2 linked regions of the Homo sapiens genome follow. The protein of the gene in region 1 purifies or fractionates together with the protein of each later gene. This does not show direct contact. Each region holds a gene or a part of one and is shown on either strand. Other genes may lie near its edges. The genes, in order: DIAPH3 and LRRTM3.

Region 1 (4,523 bases):
AATCTTGAGCAACCCTTCCCACCTCTTTCCACGGAGTCTTTCCCAAATCACCTAATCAAAGCCCAAATCCTTTAAGTGCTTTCTAATACCATTTACCTAAGACACTTCATGGCTCCCCATAGTGCATGTTCTCCCTCCCTGAGTAATAATCCCAACTTCTTCAACTACAGTATTCCTGTAGGAGCATTGACAAAACTCTAAGGGCTTTACATATGCTATGTTATTTAGGCCTGAAAATGCCCCTCTTTCATAGGTATTAGTATAATTACCCCCCTTTTGTAGATGAAGCAGCAAAGAAAGTTAAACGTCATCTCCGGTATCAAATAGCTAGTAAATGGCAGGAATAAAATCTGTATCTGGGTCTGTCATCAAGATATAAGGAACTACTTGTAGTTCTCCTGACCTTGCTGTTCTCCTGTAAGTTTCCCTAAAGATTATGTGCTCTTTGAGGACAGAGCTGTAGAGTCTGGCACAGTAAAACAAATATTAAAAAAGAAAAGCTGTAGTGTGAAGACTTACTGAGAACTAAGGCTCATTTTTTGAACCTCTGTGCCAAACTCCTCAGAGTACCTAGAGTTGTTTCTTGTACCAAAATCAATACTGCATGTTTCCGAGTCTTGGCCTACACCACCTCCATATAATCAGAAGACAGATATCTTAAAGGAATAGTTCCAAGGAAAAGCTCATTTTTAAAGAGGGTATATTGATGTGTTGAGAAAACGGTGTTTGCCTTGTAGCTTGACCTTGGGTTTACACAACAAACTCTTTTGCATGGTTTCAGTTCAAGGCCCTTTGTTATGTGACCTTAAAGTTTCTTCACCTCTATGCTTTCTTGGCCTTGCTCCTGCCTGGAATGGAATGCCTTTTAAATGAATGCCCTGCCACTGTTTCCTGCCTAGTGAAAACCTATGCAGCTTTCCTTTTACCTTTCCAGATCCACTCCTTCAGATTTAATAACTTCCCTTTTTGTTCTCAAGGAACTTCTAAAACAACTGCTATAGACATTTACATTCCTTGGTTAATTGTGTTAGGGTTTGGAAACTACAGGAGACTGTGAGCTCCTGAAGGGCTCAGCCTAGCCTAGCTCTGTCTGATTTTGGGTGGACCCCTCTGCCACCCCAGAGCGAGCACTTAGGCAGGAAATATGTCCAGAAGGCTTCCTTTTGGAGCGTCGTGGGCCCCGTCGTTTCATCCTGCCTAGTACCCCTTCCAGCACCGTACCCAGTCCCAGAACTACTTTTTCCAGCCCCAGACGTGCAAGGAGAGGGCTAGCAGATGGTTTTATATCCCAGCGCTGCTCAAATGGTGGCGCAGGGCCTGTCTCGCCCACCTTCCAGTTCTGCTGGAACCCTATCTGCAAATCCAAAGAAATCCAGGCCGATGACTTCCTCCACGGTCCCCGGCGCTTCTCCAAATCTGACGCCACTCTGCGTCCTTAAGGTGAGCGGCCTGGACCGCCGGAAGGGTTGAGCGGCTGCATAGACAGGCCGCAAGGCCAATCATGTTTCGCAGTGCCCGGAAGGGGCGGTGCCTCAGCGTGTCATTGATCCGGCGGCGCGGGATTGGCCAGTCCCGGGCCAACACGGGTGGCGGGAGTTTTCAGATGTGTTGGCTGCGGCCCCGACTTCAGCGGTTGGGCTAGGCTGTGCTGACTGTTTGGGTGGCGGACCCCGGGAGTAAAACCTGTTGTCGATCCCTCAGCTTCCAGCTTGCGGCTTGCTGAGTGGCCACCTTCTTTCCGGTCCCCGGAGCTGCGGGGAAAGATGGAACGGCACCAGCCGCGGCTGCACCACCCGGCCCAAGGCTCAGCCGCTGGGACTCCCTACCCTTCCTCAGCCTCTCTCCGCGGCTGCCGGGAAAGCAAGATGCCGCGCAGGAAGGGCCCCCAACACCCTCCGCCGCCCAGTGGCCCCGAGGAGCCTGGGGAGAAGCGCCCCAAGTTTGTGAGTATCGCCTGGAGCTAGGGTGGGGCCGCTCCCGCCCCGCCGTAGGGCTGACTGCCGAGGGTGGGCCCACAAGAACTTGGGGACCAAGTTTTATTCTAGAGATCCAGAGGTGCCAAAGATCATAGATTGACAACGACCGGGTCTAGTTGTAGTTGGATCCTGTGACAAATGCCCAGATCTTTGTGTTGCCCCCAAATTTCTTAACGCTGATGTGAAAAGCAGTTCAAACGTGTATATGTATTGACGTCATCTAGGTGGACATTGCATTTTTTAAGTCGAAGTTCTCCCTTCCTCCCTAGTGTAAGAGGGTATAAGATATATCAAAATGAACTTTTAGGTGACAGGTTTTTTTTCTGCTTATTATTTTAATAAGAACTTTTAATTACATATAAGAACTTTTAAGGTAGATATAATTTTCCAAGTTGAAACAGCTAGTTTTAGAACTTGGCGGGTGGTGTGGTCACTGCTAAAGAATGTTTTGCTTAGCTTGGAAAGAATTCTAAATATTTGAAACTTGCTATTCTGGTTTGCTTGTGTTTAACACTTAAGGAAAGTGTCATGATTAACACCTTGTCTTTTCGTTGGTGTCAACTAGTGAAAGTATAGGCAGTGATGATTATTTTGGGGTTTGTGTGTGTAAATAAATCACATAGAGGGTTGATAGATTTGGGATGAGTCCAACAGAATTGAAATTTCACATTGACCACTCCACCATTTTCCTTAGGAATATGGAAAAACTGTGTGTGTGTGTGTGTGTGTGTGTGTGTGTGTGTGAGAGAGAGAGAGAGAGAGAGAGAGAGTACAGCATTTGCCTTATGTGGGCAAGTAAAAATTGTGAGAAATTTAAGTCATGATTCACAAATTAAGGGAATAATGGTTTGTGAACCAGTTGCTAACTATAACATTTAGTTAAAAATAATAGTTGAATAAGACTGAGAGCCCATATTCTGATACATGAGATATATCAGAATACTGAAAATGAGAAACAGCATAGATTAATTGAAAATGAGGAACAGCATAGATTAATTATGCCAAATTAAGTATCAAAATGGTCATAGGAATAGTGACATTTTGCAGAAGGATCAAGTATGGACTTGATCATTATCTTGACAAATCTGAAGAATGAATAGGACAGAGTTAACTTCCCAATGAAAGATTTTTGCCTAATGTGAGAAGAATCCACTAAGGCAATGACTTTTCTTCCTTTTATAGTCTACTCTCTGGGTTAATAATCTTATTTTATTTTGTTTTAACTTCTGTGGTCCAGAATACAGGAGGTGTTATTTTCTGTGACTCATTCCCAGCAAGGAGGTCATGAAAACAGGATCTAAATTAGTATTTATGTTAAGTTTCATTGAAGGATTTCATCATTTGGTTTCCAGTCTCTGTGCTGTTTTTCATTCTTATGTATGTCACATTGACCATCTCAGCATGCCATTTGTTAAATGGATTCTCATAAAGATGAAATGACATCTAAAAGATAACACTCTTAAGCTGTAAAGGTAAAAAACACATCTAAAACACTGTGTTTTTGGGTGGGAGTCTGGTATGAATCATGACTTCCAGTTAATTTAGAAGTAATTTGGACTCTTGGTACTTTGAAACTAATTTAGGTTCTTGCTTATATGGTAATTTCTTTAGTTATATCTTCCAGTTCATTAATTTTGTTATCAGCTATGTCTAATCTGCTACTTTTCTGAATATTTGATTTTAGCAATTATTTTTTATTTTAATAAGTTCCATTTGCTTATTTTTCAAATCTGTCTGGGCATTCTTGATAGTCCTTTGTTTCTTATTCATTTATTTCTTTAGACATTTCCTACTTGATTGTTCTTATTCTTTATTTGACAGTTCTGCTGTTTGCAACCTGGGCTGTCTACATTGACTCAGATTCATGATGGCTTGCTCTCTTTCTTGTGTGTATTTATCTTTGTAAGCTCATTGCTTTATCTTCACCTGTAGGATTCCAGAGATGCTTTTCTTTGGAGATAGTTTGAGTTTGTCTGCCAAGGAGCCTGGGCATGCTACTGATTTTGGACCACCTTCCTGTTGAACTGGAAATCTTAACATGGGCAGAAGTTCCAGGCACAGCTCTACTCTGTTCCTGTACTAAAGTTCAGTATCCCAGTCTCAAGACTGCTTCCTGAGCAGCTCTTCCCAGTTTGCCTACCTTTCACTGCTCTTGATTGCACACCAGTAACTCTTGTTTTTTGGATGGAGAGGGATCTTTGAGACCATCAAAGTTCCCAGCAATGCCTCAGAAAGTAATTGTACTTGTAGGTGTCAAGTCAGTCACTGTTCTTGCAGATGTCAAGTTAGTTCTTGGCTTTTTCTTGATTGGATGAAGTGACGTTATCCTAAATCTTTTCAGGTCACCCAGTCATTATCTGAGCCTGGGGCAGCTGTTTTTGATGGGAACAAGTAATATAGGTTGGTGATGTGATGGATAGGAGTAATTTAGGTGGCCAGTGTTTTGCACACTTCTGCAAAGCAGCAAGCGAGTAGTAGAATGGAGTGGTAGACTGGTCACTCCCTCCTATCTTAGTGTAAGAAAGCAGGAGCTCTGGTACCCGCTGA
Region 2 (3,819 bases), on another chromosome or scaffold:
TAATGTCGCATTTGTTTTAAGATAAAACTTCTTTCATAAGTAATCCCCCACATTCGCTGTTAGCCTCCTGGTGGGACCAAATCTACAGTTATAGAAGGTTTGCACCTCACTGGCAAATCAAGGAAAGAGGTGAATGATTCCAGGTGCTCGGAGCTTGAGCTGATTCTTGGAGATGACTCAGTTATGGGAACATTTTACAGACAGGCAGAGCCTTTAAACCAATGCCTGACTTAGAAAAGAAAATTGCAGGAAACTATCAAAAGATGGTGCTAGGTTAAAGCAGCACCCTGAGCAGTTTCCAGAGGTGTCTGAATTACAGTAAGGCAAGCACAGGGACAAAGTGATGAAGGGTTAAAATACTGCAAGCAGACAACTGCAAAATGTGAGGAGATGACAAAAATGTAAAGTTTTCGACTCAGCCTTGTCTCTGAAACCCATCTCTGTAAAATCAGACTAGAGGTTTCACTGCCAATTTCTTCTAGCCTGTATGTTTCATAAATAAATAAATGAAACAGCATTGAGAAGCCAGATTTCTCCACCACACCTCACATTAGTTAGGGAGTTTTCAGATAAGGTTCGCGAATGGGAAAGCAGCTTGCTACAGGCATGTGGTTGAGAGCTTACCAGAATTTCTCTTTCCAGTTTTTTCGAAGACCCTAATGTAGTTAGTAGAATCCTTAGCTCTGTCCTGTTCTGTTCAGAATTTGTCAGGCTGCCCTGTTGTGTTCCATTACATGTCCTGCACACACCAGTCCCCTAATGACAGACACTTCATTCAGATGTGTAAAGAGAACACATTCCAAGACGTGCCTTCCACCCACAGCCTCATTGAAAAGGACGACTTTGATAACACCTTAATAAATGTATAAAACGAATCTTAGAGGAAAAAAGACCAACACTATGACAGTTCTCTGTTGCTTTTCTATTGCTGACATTACAATGTCCCTGCGTTCATCTGTATTGTGAACTCATCCATCAGTACAGTTCTGTACAGACCCTGTTGGCAATCTGCAAGCTGCATGCATGTTTTTATGTCATTGGTGAAAGTTTATTGACTGCAGCACGAATATCATAGCTTCCATATTTGAGTAACTTGAACCACAGTCAATTAAGGTTTTTAGAAAGATATATTTAGTCTGTATTCTCCTTCATCCTCCAAAATGAACAGTTCTATTATAGAAGCAAATATCAGGAACTGCAACATTGAGGCTGTTTCATTTAATTTGGCTTGCCAACCCCTACATCTTTAACCATGTCCCTCTTCTCTGAAAACAGAATCACTGCAGCAACAAAGAAAAAGTGAATGGCTATTTTTACTAATTTTTTTTTATTGTTTGGGGGTTTTTCATATGCTGAGAGGAAAAATCTAGGCAAGTCACCATAAAATAAAATTTTAAGGATGCCAGATCATTAAAATCATACTTTTATAAGCAATAAAGAAAAAGAAATAGTTAAAGTGGATTTCTCAAGGTACTTTGATATTGATTAAATCTTACAATAGATGCCACTTCAGAAAAACATCTTAGTTACAATGTTTACCCATGAATAATTGTTGAATATACATGTATTCATGACAAAAAGTCACATATTTCCAATGGATTAATAATGCAGATACTTCCTCACAGCTTACTGGATGACTGAGCTTATTGTGATTTTTTTACTGAAGTTGTAACTTTACATTTTTCATAAAGCATCAGTAAATACATATTCCATCTTAAAAAGAAATTTTCTTTGGCTAGCCTCATTTTTATCTGTACTAAAGATGTTTGTATTAATGAAATGCAGTCTTAAAGTGAAGAACCCCATTTCTATTCTTTTTCACTTAACCTTCTGCCTTACTTGTGATGGATACCAAATATATTTAGGCAAGGAATACTTATATTTTTGAATTATTGCAAATTCTCAATGCCATGGTGCTACTAGTATATATAAAATATGCTTGCTGTATTGAAAAGCATTCCTAAAATTCAAAGCTACTTGGAATATAAAATATGATATAACACTAAATGAATCACCAATATTTTGAAAGCTGTCACTTTTTAATGCCTAACTTTACTAATAAACATAATAATAGATAAGAACGAAAATAAAATCCCTTAGGTGGTAAAACTCATTTTGATTTGGGACATGAAATTATGGGAAAAAAGTTCTTTCTTTCTCCTCACTCTTTGAGAATGAATCTTCTGTAATTCTCAGTATCTTCTGAGCACAGATATATAATTCTTGTAGATTTAATAACTAGTTTACCACTGTAAATTTTAAAACGCCAACTGCCAGTCTCCTGCTCAAAAGTTGTTGCCTCACCTCCATCCCATGGTACTTTCTGGACTACATATCATAAATCTATTTGTATAAGTATTTCAAGTTCATGCAGATTAGAGAAATGTGATTGATATTTATTTTTCTAGTACGTATTTACATAAAATATTGGACTTCCCTCAAAGGTGACAACAGTTAAAAAAAAAAAAAAAAAAAGCCTGACCTGTTGAACTATACAACAGAACACAGAATACTTTGCTTTACCAAAACAGAGAAGAAATGGGATTTAGTCTCTAAACTTCATGTGAGTTTTTTTCCATTTTTATTAACCCCAGTACACATAGTGCTACCACAGCATGTAGTTAAATAGTCCCAGTGCCACAGTCTTGTAAGCAATACTTATGCAAGATATATTGCATTGAAATGAGTTTGTATTTTCCAAGGACGTTGACATTACATCTTTTCAAAGAATTTAAACAATTTTTTACTTGATTTGGTGAGTGAACTACCTAAGTAGACAGGCAGTAAATTGTCTTTCTATGGAGCAGCAGTGACCTCTAGTGTCTGGTTAGACTAACCACAGCTATTCACACATTTTAGCTTTTTATCCTGAATCCTTATGTAAACGTGGTTTACAACATGTTTTTTGACTAGTAAATCAGATTTGAATTTTATTTAATTCATTTCCTTGGGAAATATAATTATAATGTAATTTTTGAATGTTATACTTTTCATTTTGACTTTTATAGTAATGCTGGAACAGAGGCCATAGAATTGGTACTGAAGGCTAGAAATAAGTGTCCAAGATGAAAAGCGAGTAATAACGCAATAAGAATAGATAAGAAATATTTTAGAGTGCTTATACTCATCGATGCTGGCTAAGCATTTTGATATTTTTATTAAAGGGGTTAATATTTTTCATCAGCAAGATACATGTAATTTAGGTAGGAAAAACAAATTTTAATATTATATCAAAAGAGTCAGCATCAGTCATTTACTGGTCAGGGATATGTCAAAGGTGTCAAAGGAGGGGGGCCTCCCCTTCCGGCTTTAGAACTCTCCAGTTTGCTGATTGTGCCAGTGACCTGTGCTTTGCCTCAGCGCTTTCTCCCTCCCTCCCCCTTTTCAGCCAGCTGAACACTGGTTCTATTAGGCTCTCTGACAATGATGTTACAGTCTAAGAGGTGATGATTCATGGATAATGAAATTATGCTCTCCTTCTGGGGAAGGATAATGCAGAGTCAGATTCATGGATTTGGCAAGAGGTTTTAGGATGCTGTAGGTGCATGAAATATCTCTTCTTCCCTTGACATTTACCAAAATGAGAACTCAAATCGTTTATTTAAAGTGTGGATTAGACTGCATCAGAAACAAGCATCAGGTCATGAAGCCTGAGATAAAGTGAGTTCCAGACATGGCAAGTAAGAATCGAGCCATGAGAAATAAAAAATTCAGAATCTGTGTTGCTTCATCTATTCCTTTTTGCTCTGGATTCTCATTAGAATCCAGATCTGTAGCTAACCCACGGAGTTTTGCTATTGTTGTATTCTCCTAGCTACC

What was found.
Region 2: the proteins of DIAPH3 (region 1) and LRRTM3 purify together in Homo sapiens (co-immunoprecipitation; one large-scale study listed by IntAct). This does not show direct contact.

The regions. Positions count from the first base shown.
Region 1 is NC_000013.11:60,161,007-60,165,529, reverse strand, and holds the start of DIAPH3 (protein diaphanous homolog 3), read left to right. Parts: upstream 1-1,601; 5' UTR 1,602-1,763; coding exon 1,764-1,943; intron 1,944-4,523. UniProt on the Homo sapiens protein: Actin nucleation and elongation factor required for the assembly of F-actin structures, such as actin cables and stress fibers. Required for cytokinesis, stress fiber formation and transcriptional activation of the serum response factor.
Region 2 is NC_000010.11:66,928,737-66,932,555, forward strand, and holds part of LRRTM3 (leucine-rich repeat transmembrane neuronal protein 3 precursor), read left to right. Parts: intron 1-3,819. UniProt on the Homo sapiens protein: Exhibits a limited synaptogenic activity in vitro, restricted to excitatory presynaptic differentiation. May play a role in the development and maintenance of the vertebrate nervous system.